Regions from separate parts of the Homo sapiens genome. Here region 2 is linked to region 1. The links come from fine-mapping of genetic effects on gene expression. A gene starts in region 1. The other region holds a variant in brackets. All regions are shown on one strand. Distances are from middle to middle. Region 1 holds the start of MYO19 (myosin XIX). Region 2 has its middle 17 kb from the start of ZNHIT3.

Evidence for each region. PIP is the estimated chance that this variant, and not a neighbour inherited with it, causes the effect.
Region 2: its variant is fine-mapped to the expression of MYO19 in blood mononuclear cells (TOPMed, PIP above 0.99).

Annotation. Positions count from the first base shown.
Region 1 is chr17:36,532,842-36,538,212 of GRCh38, forward strand. MYO19 (myosin XIX) reads right to left here and starts at 2,027. Exons shown (of 26, transcript NM_001163735.2): 1 at 1,920-2,027; 2 at 1,112-1,263. It overlaps PIGW (phosphatidylinositol glycan anchor biosynthesis class W), which reads left to right and starts at 2,146. Exons shown (of 2, transcript NM_001346754.2): 1 at 2,146-2,751; 2 at 4,253-5,371. The coding sequence starts at 4,261. RefSeq lists an enhancer at 718-1,393.
Region 2 is chr17:36,467,376-36,472,746 of GRCh38, forward strand. No RefSeq gene overlaps it. Among named protein-coding and RNA genes, the nearest start is that of ZNHIT3, 17 kb to the right of the region's middle. The variant G/A (reference allele first, on the strand shown) is at 2,239.

The DNA of each region.
Region 1 (5,371 bases):
GAAACTTTTATGAGAGCCTCAGAGGCTCCCTGGGCCAGTTTTATTACAGGGTTAGGGTTTGGGTTGGGGTGGGGCTGCAAACCCTCTGGGTCAGTGTGCCATGGAGGAGGAGTAAGACACTGGGGAGACAGAGAAGCCTTGTGCCCTATCCTCTACATTAGACAGAAATATCCTATTTCAGTCGTTGGTGAGGAGGAGAGGCTGGAGTCATCTCTCGCTGCTCCAGGAAAGGTGTGGTGTGGTAGTTTATATCACAGTTCAATCACTCACTGGGTGTGTGATCCTGGGTCAGGCACATCACCTACCTCAATTTCTTACCTTGAAAATGGGGACAGTTAAATCTGCCTCATAAGGAGTGGTTGTGAAGGTCAATGAGGTCATGGTTTGACAGCACCACACAAAGTACGAATCTGAGTATTCACTCAGAGGATAAACACTGTTAGCACTACGACTAAGGGTTGATGATCCATTTGGGAGCGCTAATCAGGTGAACGGTCCAGTGTCAACTTCAAGAAGGTGAGGATTTCAGGGAGATGAATCCATCTGGGAGGTGGGGTGTTGTGAGGCTGGGCCTAAGCCAATCTTTGAAGAATGGTTAAGTGACCCTCAGACTTGGAATTTTCTAGGCCTTGGCACCACCCCTAGCAAGGAGAGATGAGGCTGAGGGTGAAGCGTGCCTGCAATGGATTAACCCTGGTGGAGACTTTCTTGAGGCTCTGAATACATCAAGTCTTTAAAGAACCCAGGGATAGGGACTTCCATAGAAGCTGGAAAAAGGACAATTGAGGCGGAAACAGGTATCAGGACCGTGCTGGACCACTTAAGGTGTGGTGCTACAGCCCTAAAAGATCCTGACCCTGGACACTGACTGTACCCCATCCAAGGGACAGCCATGCAGAGGGCTCCAGAGAACAAAGCTCTTTCAACTGGGAACTCATCTCAAGCAATAGGTCCAGAGGGGCAGCACAACAGGTTTGGGGTTTGAATCCAAAACCCAAGGCCCCTGGCACAGAACCCAAGAACTAAGCCTCACTCTGTTTCCTCGTTTACAAAACGGAGTGATAATATCCAGATCTCACGGGGCTAAATGAAGCGTTAAAGGGGCTAATACCTGTGAAAGCGCTCTGCAAATGTTATTACGATGCAGCATCAGCTCCTAGCTGGAGTCAAGTGAGATTAGAGCAGTTTTCTCCAGTTCTCCCAGCTCCTGCTCCAGTCGGTTTCGCGGTTACCAGCCAAGAATTTCTGGAAAGGGTGTGAACACTGTGGGCAGAAAGGAGACGGTAATGAGTAAATGGAACACCGAATCAAGGCAAGTGGCAACCTGATCACCAGTCCCTCCTTCTCAGACTGTTTCTTTCTAGGCATGGAGGACAGTGGGAGGGCAGACGCTGAGAAGCGCTGGGTAAGGATCTCATCAGTCCAGCTGGCTCCGCCCCCAGGTTCCCGGCGGGAACCGGGGACTCAAGGTCCGGGCGTCGTGCCGCAAACCCAGGGCTGGGATGCCGTTCCGGAAGCACCTGGCACGGGGAGAGTATGTCCTTCCCAGGAAGGTGGACGTGACCCCAGCCAAGGGCGCAGCTGCCCTGACACCTCCCGGGACCAGCCGCCCCCTCCCGGGGTCCTCAGCTGGGCGAAGAGTGGAGCAAGGACCCTCTCCCCCCAGGCCGCCCCCTGCCGGCCAGGTGGAAAGGTGGAGGGTGATCAAGAAAGACTTGTTTCAAGCAAGAGCCAAGAGCTGGGCTACCCCCTCGTGAGACACAAGAGGGTCAAAAGGAAAAGGCAAAAAGGAGGGAAACGGCGCTTTGGAAGGGGAGGTGGAGACGCCTACTTCTTCCTCACCGCTGCGGGGCAAACTGGCCTCCCAAGCCCCTTCCGCGTCTGAAGGGCTTCAGATATAGGTTCGGGTTGACACTCACCGGTCCCACGGCCCGAGCCGCCGTGCTTCAGGCCCCCGCCCGGCCAGACTGGAAAGGCGGGCGGGCCAGGTCAGGCGGCGGGAAGAACACGGGCAGGAGAGAAAAGAGGAGGGGCAAGAGCGTGCAGTGAGGAAAGGAACCTGGGAGCGCCGAACCGCACCCCGTCGGCTGCGGCACTGCTAAGTGGCCGGGGGTCGGCCGGCTCCTCCCTAGGGGCGGGGCGAGCACTCGCGGCGCGGGGCGCGCACGTGGCTTGGCCGGGACGCCTGGTCCGGCTTGCTGGCTTCAACTACGGTGAGATGTTTTGCGACCCTGGGGTAAAATGAGGGTAAAGCGGCAGCTTCCCACGTTCTGGGGGAGAAGCGCGGAAGCACGGTTTCCTGGGCCTTCGGGCGACACCAGGACTGGGGGTCTTTCAGTAGAGGTCGCCGCGGCGGAGTCTTGTGCGAGTGCGGCGGAGTGTTGTGCGAGGCCGGCGGACACCATTACCCTGATAGGGCCTCGCCGTGAGGTCTGAGGGGCCGTGTGAGGTGCATGGCGCGCCGTTTCCTCTCCAGGCGCTCCTCTCAGGGCTACGGCCCTAGAAGATCTGGCCTGCACCAGCCCAAAGGACATGACAGGAGTGGGTAGCCCACGGGACACTGGCACGAGCGCCATGATGGGCGGAGACGCGCGGAATCGGCCGGCCCGGAAGTGCCAGCTGCCTGCGTCGGCCGGAAGTGCCGCGCGGGAGGCGGAAGCGGCTGGTTCCCGCGTGGTTTGGCGGGTGCAGCGGCAGTCCGGCTGCCCTTCCCACGTAGACCGTCTGCTGGGGGCGCCGGCACCATTTGGAGTACGTGAGGTATACGGGTAGGGCGCGGCCAGGTCGGGCGTCTGTTAGGAAAAAGACTTTTTATTTTTATGTTTATTTTTTAAGAGACGGAGTCTCGCTCTGTCGCCCAGGTAGGAGTGCAGTGGCGCGATCTCGGCTCACTGCTGCCTTCCACCTCTGGGCTCAAGCGATCCTCCCGCCTCAGCCTGGCATTACAGGCGCGCACCACCACGCTCAGCTAATTTTTAATTTTTCTTTTTTTTTTTTTCACTCCTGGCCTTAAGCGATCCTCTCTCCTCCCAAAGCGCTAGGATTGCAGGCATGAACCACTTCTCTCGGCTAGGACTTTTATTTTTAATGGTCAACTGATTTGAGTTGGTTACTGTGAGATATTGTCACAGGTTCCAGACAGGCCATAATGCACGCATGCATTCACTTACTTATTCAGCTCATGGTACATTTAGAAACTCTAGGTTCATGTTTAACCAACAAATGTGTTCTTCCAGTATGCCGTTTTTCAGACAATGATGTGTGGCATTCAGAGGTGTTTTACAACCCTTAATAAAAGAGCAACTAACACTAGTATGTGCTATACATCCATTCTTAATGCACCCACCGTACCTACTTCCATCCTAACCTGAAAACATAGCTGTCTGTAAATGAGGAAAGGAGCAGCCTGGGGATCCAGAAATCACTGCAGGGGTCACGTTTTGTACCAAGGCAGTAGGTTTGGAGAGGCTCTGAACTGGAACCAAGGCCCCCAACTTCAAAATGTACTTGGCCCCTAGCGTTTGAATTTGCTTTAAGGTCATTAGTAAATCCTATTCAATTTGCATCAAAGAATCTTCATGATACGTACTGTGCTCCATAATAGAAATTCCCATCTGCCTATGATGCCATTCTCAGAGTTTATATCCCAAATTCGCTCTCTTTTCCTTTGCTTTTTCTTTTCCTTTTTTTTTTTTTTTTTTTGAGATGGAGTCTCACTCTGTGGCCCAGGCTGGAGTGCAATGGCTCACTCCAACCTCTGCTTCCCCGGTTCAACCGATTCTCCTGCCTCAGCCTCTAAAGTAGCTGGGATTACAGGCGGGTGCCATCACGCCTGGCTAATTTTTGTATTTTTAGTAGAGACGGGCTTTCACCATGTTGACCAGGCTGGTCTCGAACTCCTGACCTCAGGTGATCCTCCCACCTCGGCCTCCCGAAGTGCTAGGATTACAGGTGTGAGCCACCACGCCTGGCCCCAAATTCACTTTCTTTGTGAGTCTGTCTTGTACAGGGAATAGCTGAAGCTTTGTAACCAATAATTTAATATTATTAGTATGACATTTCTATCTGAACACATTAGTGTTAAGCTTCTTCCCACAATCCTTGGAAGGGGAATCACAAATCCTAGGTGAACTCATTAGGGCCCAAAGTTCTGCTCTGAAATCTAGTAATAAGAGTAAAATTAAGCCAGGTATGCTAATTACACAAGAATGCTGCTTTTCACAAATCCATTCCTTTGCTCTTGTTTTCACAGGAAGAAAAATGTCTGAAAAGCAGATGAAGGAAGCTTTTGTCAGTAACCTCAATGGAACCACCGTGCTGGAAATCACCCAGGGATTGTGCTTTCCTGCATTCTGTATCCTGTGCAGAGGGTTCCTGATCATTTTCTCACAGTACTTGTGTTCTTTTTCACCTACCTGGAAAACTAGATTCCTCACTGACTTTGTTGTCCTAATAGTTCCCATGGTAGCCACTTTGACCATTTGGGCTTCATTTATCCTCCTTGAGCTTCTCGGTGTAATTATCTTTGGGGCAGGGCTGTTGTATCAAATATACCGAAGGAGGACCTGCTATGCCAGACTGCCTTTCCTAAAAATCCTTGAAAAATTCTTGAACATCAGTCTAGAATCAGAATACAATCCAGCCATCTCCTGTTTCCGTGTAATTACCAGTGCGTTTACTGCTATTGCTATTTTGGCTGTGGACTTCCCACTTTTTCCCAGAAGATTTGCCAAAACTGAGCTCTATGGGACAGGAGCAATGGATTTTGGAGTAGGTGGCTTTGTTTTTGGGTCTGCAATGGTTTGTCTAGAGGTCAGGAGGAGAAAATATATGGAAGGGTCCAAATTGCATTACTTTACAAACTCATTGTACTCTGTTTGGCCATTAGTCTTCCTAGGAATCGGACGATTAGCCATTATAAAATCAATAGGCTATCAGGAACATTTAACAGAGTATGGAGTTCACTGGAACTTTTTCTTTACCATAATAGTTGTGAAATTGATAACACCACTGCTGTTGATTATTTTTCCCCTAAATAAGTCCTGGATTATTGCCCTCGGCATTACTGTATTATACCAGCTAGCCCTTGACTTTACCTCACTGAAGAGGTTAATATTATATGGCACTGATGGTAGTGGCACACGGGTTGGTCTATTAAATGCCAACCGCGAAGGAATAATCTCTACCCTGGGGTATGTGGCAATACACATGGCTGGTGTGCAAACAGGGTTATATATGCATAAGAACCGATCACATATCAAAGACTTGATAAAAGTAGCCTGTTTTCTTTTACTGGCAGCTATTAGCCTCTTCATATCTCTTTACGTAGTTCAAGTAAATGTAGAAGCAGTATCTCGAAGAATGGCAAATT
Region 2 (5,371 bases), 65 kb before region 1:
CTATCTTAACTATTCGAAAAACCAAAGCAACCATTTGACAGTAGATCAATGTCAAGTTTTCTTTCCACAAGGAATTTGACACCTGGACTATTCCGTGTGTCTGAAACATTATCTACACAGATAAAGGTGAAGGCCTGAATTGCCCATGTTAGCCTGTCTACACTCCTGGAAATCAATCTTCCTTGCTTAGGGCTTTAGCAAGACTCTCCCCACCCTAGCCTGAGTCTCCTGGGAAAAAGAGGAATTCAGGCAGGAGGACACAAGCGGTGACTTAGCATGCAGCAAAAAGAGGTGCAAGGGCAAAGAAAAAAGGCAGTGGGGAAGCAGTGCCAGGCCTGGCATGGGTGAAGTAGAGGTGCCTTGCAGAAAGAGAGGCTGGAGCCACACTGTGAAGGGCCTTTACCGCCATGCTGAGCCATGGGTGACACAATCAGAGCCATGTTTAAAAAATATATATCTACAACATCATGTGAAGTTGGAGGTTGACTAGAGAGGGCAATACCCAGGTTAGGAACCTCTACGTGAGGTGCTAGTGAACCCTGGAGAAATTCACCAGAGGAGTGAACTTGTCAGATCCACATGTTCAGAAACATCACCGCTGGCAGCAATAGGGTGGCAAAAATGACTTTCTCAATGCCCTAAGGGATCCTGGTGGAGCTTCGCAGGGCTGCAGTGAATGAGGGATCCAGGGAGGTGTTTGGGACTCCATATCCTATCCCTGATTACAGAAGAGTGCTTTCTTCTGTTTAAAGATTTATCTAGAGATATTAATTTTAAAAAGATTGAAAACTACTGCTGCAAAAACAAAGATTGGGGCCAGGTGTGGGGGCTCACGCTTTTGTAATTCCAGCACTTTGAGAAGCTGAGGCAGGAGGATCGTTTGAGCCCAGGAATTCAAGTCCAGCCTCGGCAGCAAAGCAAGACCCCATCTGTACAAAAAAAATTTTTAAGTAGCCAGATGGGTGTCACACACCTGTAGTCCCAGTTACCTGGCAGGCAAAGGCAGGAGCATTGCTTGACCCAGGAGTTCCAGGCTGCAATGAACTACGTTCATGCCACTGCACCCCACCCTGGGCAACAGAGCAAGGCTCTGTCTCTAAATACAAAACAAAACAAAACAAATTAAAAAAAAAAAGAGAGAGATTGGAGTGGATAAGACCAAAGGCAAAAAAAATCCAAGGAGAATGAGCAAAATACAATAGGTTGAGGACCTAGAAAGGGTCTCTGAGAACAGAGAAGGGTCAGATTGAAGAAAGACAGGCTTGAAAAAACTTGGGAAGCAATCAGATGTGAGAAGTGAAGGAAAGGGGTCTAACCAGGGAGTTGGTGAGGACAGCTACCAATAACTGAAAACTTACTAACAGCCAGGCACTTATTCATAGTGTCTCGTTTAATTCTTGCAAAAAAGCCTGTGACAGTGGTATTATTTCCACTTACTGATGAGGAAACAAAGGCTTCAGGGAATAAAGAAACTGGTCGAAGCTCCACAGCTAGAAAGTGTCAGAGACAGACTGTGAACCCAGGTCTAACTCTAAGGCTGTGTTACACACTAGGAAGTAGGGAGGATGAGGAGAATAGAGAGGAGAGCGAACCCCAAATGTGGACAGATGGTTCTAGCGAAGCAGGGTATTTCCCTGACCGCTTCGCGGGATTTGCAACAGGAGTGCCTCATTTACTCAGCCGGCAGCTCTCAACATCCCGTGGGAGGGAATGCATGAGTGAATGAGGCAGGAACTGGAGTGCACAAGTGCTGGAACCAGCTGGCCACTTCGGTGCTGGCAGGAGCGATCTTCACTCACTTGGACCACCCCTTGCAGGAGGGAGCACACAGGTGAGTGGGTGCAGGATCTGGGGAGAGTGCTTTTGGGCGCCGGCAGGAGCAAACTCTGTGTGGGCTCCACAGCAGCATCTAGGCAGGAGGGTTCCTGTGGCCCCTGAAGCCCCAGAGGGCGTGTTACGGTGTTCTTTTAGCTCTTCTGTCCATGGATGGCTTAAGCATTAACAGCTCAGTGGACCCTCTGCCTTTTCACATGAGGCGGCTGCCTTCCACCAGCGAGGGCAAAGGGCCAGTGTGACAGCCTTTTGTATCTGCACTCGTAGCTCCCAGGCTCTAGTCCAGCATCCAGGAAAAATGAAGTTGCATGAATGAATTGAAGGATGGTAAATGCGGGGATTTTACGGCTGATTAAAGTGGCCCTCAGTGGCTCTCAGTGGGAATGGGAGCTGAAAAGGGGTCAG[G/A]GGGGTGTAAGTGATCCTCCCCTGAAGTCCGGCCATCTCCAGCTGATTCTTCTCCAAAGTTACGCTGTCAGACCGTCCCTCTGAAGTCAAGCCATTTCTCTCTGACATTCAGCCAGAGTGCCTGATGTCCAGCTCCTTCTTTCTGATGGCTGAGTCTGGGGTCTTTATAGGGACAGGATGGGGTGGAGCAGGGCCATGTGTAGTTTAGGAAAAGGCAACATTTGAGCAGGAAAACATCGATAGAAGTTCTCACTTTGGGTCTCAGGCTTTTTGGCTTGAGTCGGGGGGGCTTCACCGGGGACCCCCCCGCCAACCCCGTGTCTGCCTAGAATTTCTCGGCCTCCTGTAGCTATCATTTCCCCCCTCTGAAGATGCACATCTAACTGCTGTTAGGATACAGACAATGACCGATCTAAGCTGCTTCCTGCAGAGAGGGGGCATTGTTTTGGGGAGAAGAGCAGTCAGATTCTTCCCAGAGGTCTACCTAAGGGTCCCCAGCAAAAGGGAGCCATCATCCAGGGCTCTGCTTGCCTTGACCATTTGGAGTTTGATGGTCTCTAGGTGAGAAGAAACAAGTTCTACAAGGTTAAGTATGCATGAATCAAATATGTGTATTATACAAAAAGGGGTTAAAAGGAAAGAATCTAGTGGCAAAGTTTACAGAAATAAGAAGTAAAATATACAAATTATTCTGAAAACAACATTATATCCTGTGGTATAGAACAGAGCAAAGGTAAGAACAGCAAGCATAGCCAAGACTTTTAAGGAAGATATCCATGGAAGGTTAATTATTAACACTTATCTTTTGTGATTCTTAGCTTGAGGTCCCTGATCTCTTCACATTGGTACTTTGAGTGCTCTTCTGGGTTAATGGAGGTAACTCCATTAGCTTCCTAGGCCCTTACTAGGGTATAATGAATCCAAGAATCTATTCCAGTGACCTTCACTGCCATAGGAGTAGAAAGAAGTACAGTGTAAGGTCCCTCCCAATCTGGGCTTATAGAGGGACAAAGGGAAGGAAGTACCTTTACCAGTACTAGGTCCCCAGGGTTGAATAGAGGTGGTCCTGGTTCATGGGATTGTGCCTCTCTGACAGTTGTTTCAGTTCCTGTTGGAAATGGGCCAAAGAAGTGATATGTTTAACCAAATCAAAGGTTTCTTGGTCTAGCAAGAAATCATTGGTGAGAAAAGGCCATCCATACATCATTTCAAAGGGATTCAAACCTAGCCTTGAAGGGGTGTTTCTAATACATAGTAGAGATATGGGCAGAAGGGTAGTCCAGGGGAGGTGAGTCTCCTGAGGTGTCTTTTGATAATATCATTTGTCTTTTCTACCTTTCCTAAGAATTGTGGTCTCCAAGCACAATGAAGAACCATCTTCATTGTACTGTATGCCTAGTGCCTTTGAGATCCCCTGGGTGACAGCCGCATTGAACAAGGGGCCATTATCACTCTGGAGGTACTTAGGGAGTCCAAAGCGAGGAATTATCTCATTAATTAGTAAACCTTACATCCTCTGTTAGCCAGAAAATTAAGAAGAGCCTTACTGCCCTCCTGAGAGATTTTTTTAGTTAGAGTGCAGAGGAGAATGTCATCTACATATTGTAAAACTTTCACCTGAGGATAAAGGAACTTGGAGAAGTCTCTTGACCGTGCCTGCCCAAAAAAGTGGGGGCTGTTTCAGAATGCCTGAAGTAACACTATCCAGATTAACTGGGTGGTCTGGTTAGAGGGATCCTCAAATGCAAACAAATACTGGGGGTTTATATAACAGTATGCAGAAGAAGCATACCATTATATCTTTAGGTCCAGGACTGTGAACCTTTTAGTTCCCTCAGGTATGTGAGCTAGCAAGGTATACAGATTGGGAGCCACTGGGTGAATTGGAACCACAGCCTCATTAACAAGATGAAGGTCCTGAACTAGTCTCCATTCCCCTTTGGGTTTTTGTACCCCCAATATTGGGGTATTACAAGGGCTGTTGCAGAGTTTGAGGAGGTACTGCAACCTTAAGTTATCAATGATGGCTTCTGGTCTTTTCTTAACTTCTGGTTTCAGGGGCTATTGTGTCTGGTTCAGACTGGTATGGTGGTTGTGGCTCTGCCAATTTTCCCTTGAGTTACCCAAACTTCTGGGTTAAAATCAGTCTCCACTAAGGGGAGACAAAGAGTTTGTCCTGGGGCCATCAGGATGGTGGTTCCTACACGGGCCACAATACCCCTACCCAACAGAGTATTTGGCCTTTCAGGCACAATTAGAAAGGCACAGGTGAACAAGAGGTCTCCCCAACTACAACTAAGGGGTTGGAAAAAATATTGGGTTTAAGGCCTTCCTGGGATGCCCCTCACAGTCATGCTAAGAGAGGACAGGGGGCTTGAATTGGAGATGAAAACCGAGAGACCAGCCCCAGCGTCCAGAAGGAGGTCCACTTTCCTCCCTTCCATATCCAGAATTGTAAATTCTGGGGCTCCTGGATGGTAATGGTGGTCTGGACCACCGGAGCCAGGGAGAGGAGCCCCAGGACTTGTCAGTCTTGCTGGACCATTTGGGAGATTGGCTCTGGGCCTGGCGACCAGTGCCCCCGGGGACAGTCCACTTTCTAGTGGTCCCCATTGTACATTGGACAGGGTTGGGGTGGCTTCCTCATGTTGCCTGGGCAATCCTTCCTAAAATGCCCTGGCTTACCACATCTGTAGCAGTTAACAGGTGTAGCTTGGGGATTCTGGAGTTTGTGGGTTTGCATGGTGGCCATTAAAGCCTCTGCCTCTTGCCTGTGTCTCCTCTCTCTCTCTTCTGGGCCTCCCTATCTTATTACAAAAGACTGAGGTGGCCACTTTCAGGAGATTCTCTAAGGTACTATCTGGTCCCAGGGCCTGTTTCTGCAGCTTTCTCCTGATATCAGGGGCTGCCTGAGTAATAAATTTATCCTTTAGGATTACTTGTCCCTTGATGGAATCAGGAGCTAGTGAGGTGTGCTTTACCAAGACTCTATTAGCCTCTCCAGGAAGGCAGTAGGATGCTCATTGAATCCCTGGTCCATCCTGGATAGCTTGGTATAGTTGAGAGGCTTAGTTCTAGTCCTACATAAGCCCTCTATTATGCCCACCTGAAACTGTCTCCTCTTACATTCTCC